2 linked regions of the Homo sapiens genome follow. The main gene of each other region encodes a partner of the protein of the gene in region 2 in a complex. Each region holds a gene or a part of one and is shown on either strand. Other genes may lie near its edges.

The links.
Region 1: CTNND1 (region 2) and CTNNB1 share a complex: the UniProt entries of both Homo sapiens proteins name them as parts of the cadherin:catenin adhesion complex.

The regions. Positions count from the first base shown.
Region 1 is NC_000003.12:41,233,785-41,237,504, reverse strand, and holds part of CTNNB1 (catenin beta-1), read right to left. Parts: coding exon 3,638-3,720; intron 3,367-3,637; coding exon 3,208-3,366; intron 1,782-3,207; coding exon 1,662-1,781; intron 1,157-1,661; coding exon 1,006-1,156; intron 918-1,005; coding exon 796-917; intron 1-795. UniProt on the Homo sapiens protein: Key downstream component of the canonical Wnt signaling pathway.
Region 2 is NC_000011.10:57,803,126-57,807,044, reverse strand, and holds part of CTNND1 (catenin delta-1), read right to left. Parts: intron 3,425-3,919; coding exon 3,241-3,424; intron 2,383-3,240; coding exon 2,265-2,382; intron 1,164-2,264; coding exon 1,010-1,163; intron 585-1,009; coding exon 567-584; intron 131-566; coding exon 62-130; intron 1-61. UniProt on the Homo sapiens protein: Key regulator of cell-cell adhesion that associates with and regulates the cell adhesion properties of both C-, E- and N-cadherins, being critical for their surface stability.

The sequences.
Region 1 (3,720 bases), on a different chromosome or scaffold from region 2:
AAAAACCCAAGTAACACACTACTCACTGGTAATTTGCTTTTTTTTTTTTTTTTTTTTTGTGTTGGAGTCTGGCTCTGTCACTGAGTGCAGTCTGTTAACTCCTGGGTTCAAGCAATCCTCCTGCCCCCGTCTCCCCAGTAGCTAGGACTATAGGCATCCATCTCCATGCCCAGCTAAAGATGGGGTTTCACTATGTTGCCCAGGCTGATCTTAAACTCCGGTCTCAAGAGCTGCATCGTTGTAAACCTAACAATCTCTCTTTCCATTCACTCAACAAACATAATCCACTGTATGTCTGTGTACCATCAATGATCTCTATAGAATGGATAAAATATCAGGATGTTCTAGTTTTATTAGAAACAATGTTTCAAGGAACCACCTGTACTGAGGACAAATGCTGAAGAAAAATTCATAGCAGAAATTCAAATAGAAAAGTTTTATTAAAGTTTAGTAAAAAATACTGATAAACTGTCCTCTTAACAGTGTTTAACACTGCCTCTTTCCTTACATCCTTTTGAAAAATCTTCTTTAATCTGGTAACATTTTTCATCTTTCTCCCTTATGAATTATAATTTTAAATAACACAACTTATTTGTAATGATTCTGAACAGACTCTTTAAAGCTTGTATTATAGTTCTTCCTCAGAGCAGTTGCTAGACAGCATAAAGAAGAAATACTCAAGCCAGGGAAACATCAATGCAAATGAATGTGTACTAAGTGTTTTGAGAGGAAAGAACAAGCTGCCATACCTGCTCTAGGAAACTACCAGATAAATAACTGCTCACATTTCCCTACCTCATTCCAAGCCATTGGCTCTGTTCTGAAGAGAGAGCTGGTCAGCTCAACTGAAAGCCGTTTCTTGTAATCTTGTGGCTTGTCCTCAGACATTCGGAACAAAACAGCAGCTGCATATGTCGCTAAGAGACAAGGAGAAAAAGGCCCTTGAGGAAAAACTGAGACTTCAATGTACACATCTGCTAAAGGCTTTGGTTCCTTTTTACTTACCCACACCTTCATTCCTAGAGTGAAGTAACTCTGTCAGAGGAGCTGTGGCTCCCTCAGCTTCAATAGCTTCTGCAGCTTCCTTGTCCTGAGCAAGTTCACAGAGGACCCCTGCAGCTACTCTTTGGATGTTTTCAATGGGAGAATAAAGCAGCTAAGGAGAAAACACAAACAAAACCTAATTAAATCTAAAGCTAAAACATGGCAAGCCCCCCACTGTGGTGCAAACATTCCCAATTCAGAGTGCAAGAGGCATTCACACTGTAGTAAATAATATTCTCTGAATTTTATGTCTTGGGGTGTTTAATGCTCTGGAGCACTGGATTTCCATAATATTTTTTAGCTATAAACCCTTTCTTCAGAGGCAGCTCTAACTGATCTAAGATTTGGAAAACCCAGAATTGGTTGGGGGTCTATGCCCTGCCTCTGGCAGCCCAGGTCAGCTCTCCCCTCTAGGCACCCATAAAAGTGAAATGTGAAATCTCCTCCCTCTTCTCAAGTCTCAATGTTTCTCTTACTGACCAAAAAATGTAGGGAATTTTCATAAAATTAAATGTTGGTAACCCTATTATGGTCCCTAATTTTCTGAAATGTTATTAGTCATTACAATCTGGAAATTTTATGGACATAAAACCTAGAACACTTCACTTAAAACATACCTGCACAAACAATGGAATGGTATTTAGTCCTCTGATAACAATTCGGTTGTGAACATCCCGAGCTAGGATGTGAAGGGCTCCGGTACAACCTTCAACTATTTCTTCCATGCGGACCCCCTCCTGCCAAAAGAAACATGGTTAACAAACAGGGCATTCTCCTCTGTAAAGTTTGAGGAACAATTATTAGACTGTAATTATTTACATTATATACCCGAAGTTCCCCGTAACTTGCAATTAGTTCAGGAAGGAAGAAGGATTCCATTAACTTGAATGTCACTGAAAAGAGGCCTCCTGGCAGCACTAATTCAAAGCAGCACCCCTCCCCCATACACAGTGCAACAGAGCTTCCATACAGCGCTGAATCCCAAAGACAACTTTCCTACAGTAAGGGCACCAATCATTCTGGGTAAAAGGTATATAAAAAGAGAAGATGAGAAAGTAATGCTCAGACTATGTCAACGTTTTTCTTTTACATGCCCCCTCTATTTTTGTATATCTTCCATGTATTTGGTGAAAACTTTGCCAAGTTTTAGCACCAACTGCTAAAACTAACCGAGTTGCCAGCAGAAAAATTCACTCCTCACTCTTCCAAGACTATTCAGCTGACAGCCTCATGTATAGAAGGAAGATAGCTTTTGCAATATGTAAGTACCATCTGTTTCTCCTGTTTCTGGATTTGAGTTTTAAAAGGGGTTATTATTCTGCTACATTTAGCAGCTTTTATAAATAACTTGATTCTTACAAGGACACAAAAACTCTCTTCTTCCTAGAAAAGAGATTTAAAATAAAAGGTGCCCTCAACGTTCTATTAAGTCACCTCATGGAGATGGGCCAATACCAACAGTAATAAATGAAGAAAGCCAAAGCCCCAATATGAGTACATACACAAAGCAACCAGCAAAATGAGATTCCTAACATCTGTTCTGGTAGGCTCCATCTTTGTTTTCTAAACTAACCTAATAAGGTCTTAAAGTCTGAGAAATCAGAAATGTCATTAGACTATACTTTTAATGAAGCTACTTTTAAGACACAAACTTTGTATCAAAGCTTCAGGTTGAGATTTTTGTGGTTAAGAGTACAGAAATGCTACTACTTATTTCTGAATATTCTTAGGTCCATGAAAAAAGTTTAACTCACAGAAAAGATAATAAAACGGACTGCTAAATATTTATAGTCAAAATGCATGATGAGGCAAGGGTAAGAGGCTCTGAAATTACACAGATTTGATCTCAAATTATGACTCTACCTCTTCCTAAGGAAGTGGGCCTTTGTGTAAATTAAATGAGAACACTTTATGAAACACCTAACCCAACCTTTGTAAGACTGACCATGTGAAGGACGTGTCCAAGGAAATATCACTGGGGCCACACTATGCCTTATTTTCTCTGCAGCCATAGAAATGTGTAATTATTTATTTATTTACTTTGTCATTAGCTCTTCAGGAAGACGGATGGGGGGAACCAATGACCAAAGAAAGAAGTTCAGGATCCTTTGGATTTATGCATTCCTTTTAGATAGCCAGGTATCACTGTAAGAATTTACCTACCACAAATTGCTGCTGTGTCCCACCCATGGACGTACGGCGCTGGGTATCCTGATGTGCACGAACAAGCAACTGAACTAGTCGTGGAATGGCACCCTGCTCACGCAAAGGTGCATGATTTGCGGGACAAAGGGCAAGATTTCGAATCAATCCAACAGTAGCCTGAAAAACAGAAGGAAGAACTGGCATACAACTCAACAAAATCATTTTCTTACCCTAAAATTCCCACCACACTAAATCTATTGGTATCAACTAAAAGTAGTTCTGACTACACAAACATTTCAGAATCTTACCCCTATCGCAGCCATACTTCCTACTTACTAAGGAATACAATTCCTACTTATTGATCACTATGCTTAGACAGCCATCCAACAGCTAGAGATGCTTCATTTTCAATTCTGCAACAAAGGTAAATTCTACTTTGACAATTTACCTTTATCAGAGGCCAGTGGGATGGTGGGTGTAAGAGCTTAACCACAACTGGTAGTCCATAGTGAAGGCGAACTGCATTCTGGG
Region 2 (3,919 bases):
CTAAATATCTTATCTTTGTACTATGTTTATGAGACCTTTGGAGACTGAGAAGATAACTTACCTCGAGCTGGACTCGTTCTTTTAGGGAAATCCACTGTATCGTTTGCTGGATCCTCTATAGGTTTTTTCCCTACAAAAATGAAAAAGGGCGGGAAAAGGGGTAAGCCAGTTTAAAAAAGAAAAGATTCCACCTGGCACATTTTTCATCCTTCAGTCAGAACCTTTTGATCACAGATGCACCACGAGGGGAAAAGGGGCAGGTGAGGGCAACTTGTTCCAGCAGGGGACTATTCAGAAACAAGGATAGAAAACAGGCAGCAGATAGGTAAGATGAGGATGACCACTGTTGATGCTATTGTCCTGAGTTCTGATAATGGGGACTGCTGCCCAGAAACAGCATGCCGTGAGCTATTAGCTCCAAAGAGCTAAACTTGTTTCAGTGTCTTCCTCAACTGAACTTTCCTACATGCATAGACAGGGAAAGGTTAGGCAAGGACATACTAGGGAAGCTAAAATCAAAACATGCAAATTAGAAGTAGATAAGCACCTTAAAAGACTCCACTCACCTCTGGAGAACCACTCATCTTCCAGTGCATCACCCAAGGTAGAAAGCAGAGAAGAGAAATGAAATAAGAAAAATGCAGGAGAAAGATGTCAGCAGAATCATGGGCAAATAAGCAGGGAAGCACAGAGAAGAAAAGAAAAACACAGAAAATGCAAAGGACGTATGGGGAAGAAGGTCCCAGATTAGTTGAGTTCTCATTTTCCACTGCCCCACTCATTGATACCACCACCACCACCACCACCACCACCACCAACACATCACAACCACCATCCCATCACCACACCTTGAATGAAGCACACAACACAGGGAAAGCAGCAAACCAAAAAGACATCCATAACCAGGCAGACTCCCATACTGTTGCCAAGTATTTTGTACCTTAAGCTAAAGTGTTCCTTCCTTTCCCTATCCCACATTAAAGACTAAGAAACAGGAACCAAGACTCACCTTTGCCCTTCTTGGCCCCAAAGCAACTGGCAGCATGTGGCCCAGTATTGTTGGCAACATTGGGAGCTGCCTCTTGGTAACGCTCTGCCTGTGGGATCTCCCGGTGAACTTGATATGATAAGTTCCGAAGAAGGCAAACACAGTTCTCTACAAGCTTAGGGACATAAAAGGGCCAATGAGAAAAAAGAATGTCTATTGTGATTTCTCCACAAGTACAGGTTTCCATGACTCAGGTATTAAAATGTTGATCTTCAAATGCATAACCCAATCCATAACTTCTCAGGATGCCTCTTAAGTGCTCCAGGCTTCTTGAAATCCCGGTAGCCTCAGGCTAATGGAAGGTCCAACTATGGACTTATTGGCTTCTGCCACTATTTGGTGTGTGACTGAAATTGGATCATCATTCTTACTACTTAGACAATGTACAATTTTGGAAGACAGCTAAGCAGCTTTAAAATACATAGGTGACAGATTTAAAAAAAAAAGAAAAAAAAGCCGGGCACAGTGGCTCACACCTGTAATCCCAGCACTTTGGGAGGCCGAGGCGGGTGGATCACCTGAGGTCGGGAGTTCAAAACCAGCCTGACCAACCTGGTGAAACCCTGTCTCTACTAAAACACAAAAATTAGCCGGGCATGGTGGCAGGTGCCTGTAATCCCAGCTACTCAGGAGATGAGGCAGAGAATTGCTTGAACCCAGGAGGGAGAGGTCGCAATGAGCCGAGATCACGGGACTGTACTCCAGCCTGGGACAGAGCCAGACTCCATCTCAAAAAAACAAACAAACAAACAAAAAACATGTTTTAAGTTGAATACCCACTTTAAGGAGTAAGGGCTTGGCTGGGCACAGTGGCTCACGCCTGTAATCCCAATGCTTTGGGAGGCTGAGGCAGGGGGATCACGTGAGGTCAAGAGTTTGAGACCAGCCAGGCCAACATGGTGAAACCCCGTCTCTACTAAAAATACAAAAATTAGCTGGGTGTGGTGGCACACGCCTGTAATCCCATCTACTTGGGAGGCTGAGGCATGAGAATCGCTTGAACCCAGGAAGCAGAAGTTGCAGTGAGCTGAGATCACATCACTGCACCCCAGGCTGGGCAACAGAGCAAGACTCTGTCTCAAAAATAAGGGGTAGGGGACAGTATAAATATTTAATGTTACTTGAAAGCCTGAGATGATAGGTCTCTGACCTACAGATACTTCATAGTTGTGGTGAATGAAATTCACTCAGCCATTAAAGGTAAGACAGCACTTACCTTGCTGTCTGAATCCTTCTGCCCAATCTCAGCCTGAACAATGAAAATGAGGGCATCAACTAAACCATCACATTCCCGAAGTTTCCGGCGAGCTTCACTCCTCTCTGAGCTTACATTCCTGAGGGGAAACCAGAAGCTTCAAGATGACTCAAATCCAGAAATCCTCCCTTAAATATCCCTCAACACCTACAAGATTCCTGAATATGTTTTTCTACTCACTGTAATAGTAAATACCTATTATAAGCAAGGTACTGCAGTTGAGAGAAAGTTGATTAACAGTCCCTGCCTTCTGAATGTTTATATCACTGTGGGGTAGGGATTAATGATATGTACCAGATGCAGTAATTCAAGATGGAATATATACTTCTCGTATGGAAGTATATAATACATATGTAGAATGGAACACAGCACACAGAGGTGTATTCCAAAGAGAGAAAGATTATATAGCAGCATTTATAGGATATAAAAAGAATTCAGGAAAACTTTAATAAAATAAAGGCACTTGAGTTTAACCACAAAAAGATAAATAAGAAGAGAAAGGCATCACAGAAAGAACAGACCTTCCTCACCCATGCCCTAACCTCCTAGTACTCTGTACCCCTTTTGCTGAATTTATCACAGCCTGACTTGAAATACAAATAACTAGGGCAAGGACATAGACACACACAAGTCCAGGACTAGACCACCTTACATGTGGTAGATGCTGAACAAAAGCTTACCAAAGTAGATGAACAAAGTCAAAGAGGCATAAAAGTGAAGAGGATGTGTGGGGAACAGCAAGAAAACTGATATAGGTACATGTGGTATACATGAGAGAATAGCAACAAAGATAGAAAGGTTGGAGTTACAGTATGCAATACAGATAGGAATGGAGGCTAAAGAATAGGCTAAAGAATTTTAATTTTTTTTTTTTTTTAGGAAATTTAAGTCAGTCCTCAAAAATTCATCTTCATATTCTCAAAGTCCCTACTGTTACCTAAGGCAGCCAGCTGTGTTGGTGAGCACCGATTCCCACTCAATGTGGCGTGGCTTACAGTCTTCATTAGGTTCCCGCTCCCAACCAGAATGAGGAATGATCACTTCATCTGTCAAGGCATGCAGTGCATGGTCCACAATCTCCATTTTGATTGAGTCATGGGATGAAAGATTCCACAGGGTTCCTGGAAGAGACAATTCATCAGATGGCTCTTGAGCATTCAAGACAATATGTCTGAAGAACGTCAAAGAGAATCCCCCTATCGTATCACTTCTCAGTCTTCCCCAGTGACCAAATACCTTATAGTAATATTCAAGCTTTGTTTGCGACCCTCACCAAGAAACATATTCTACATTATAGCTCAAAATAAACATACAGATCATGAAACAAACAATGTTTAACTATAAGCAACGCTCAGGCTGGGTGTGGTGGCTCACGCCTGTAATCCCAGCAATTTGGGAGGCCAAGGCGGGCGGATCACAAGGTTGGGAGATCAAGACCATCCTGGCTAACACTAAAAATACAAAAAATTAGCCGGGCGTGGTGGCGGGCACCTGTAGTCCCAGCTACTTGGGAGGCTGAGGCAGGAGAATGGCGTGAACCCATGAGGCGGAGCTTGCGGTGAGCTGAGATTGTGCCACTGCACTCCAGCCTGGGTGACAGAGCGAGACTCCATCTC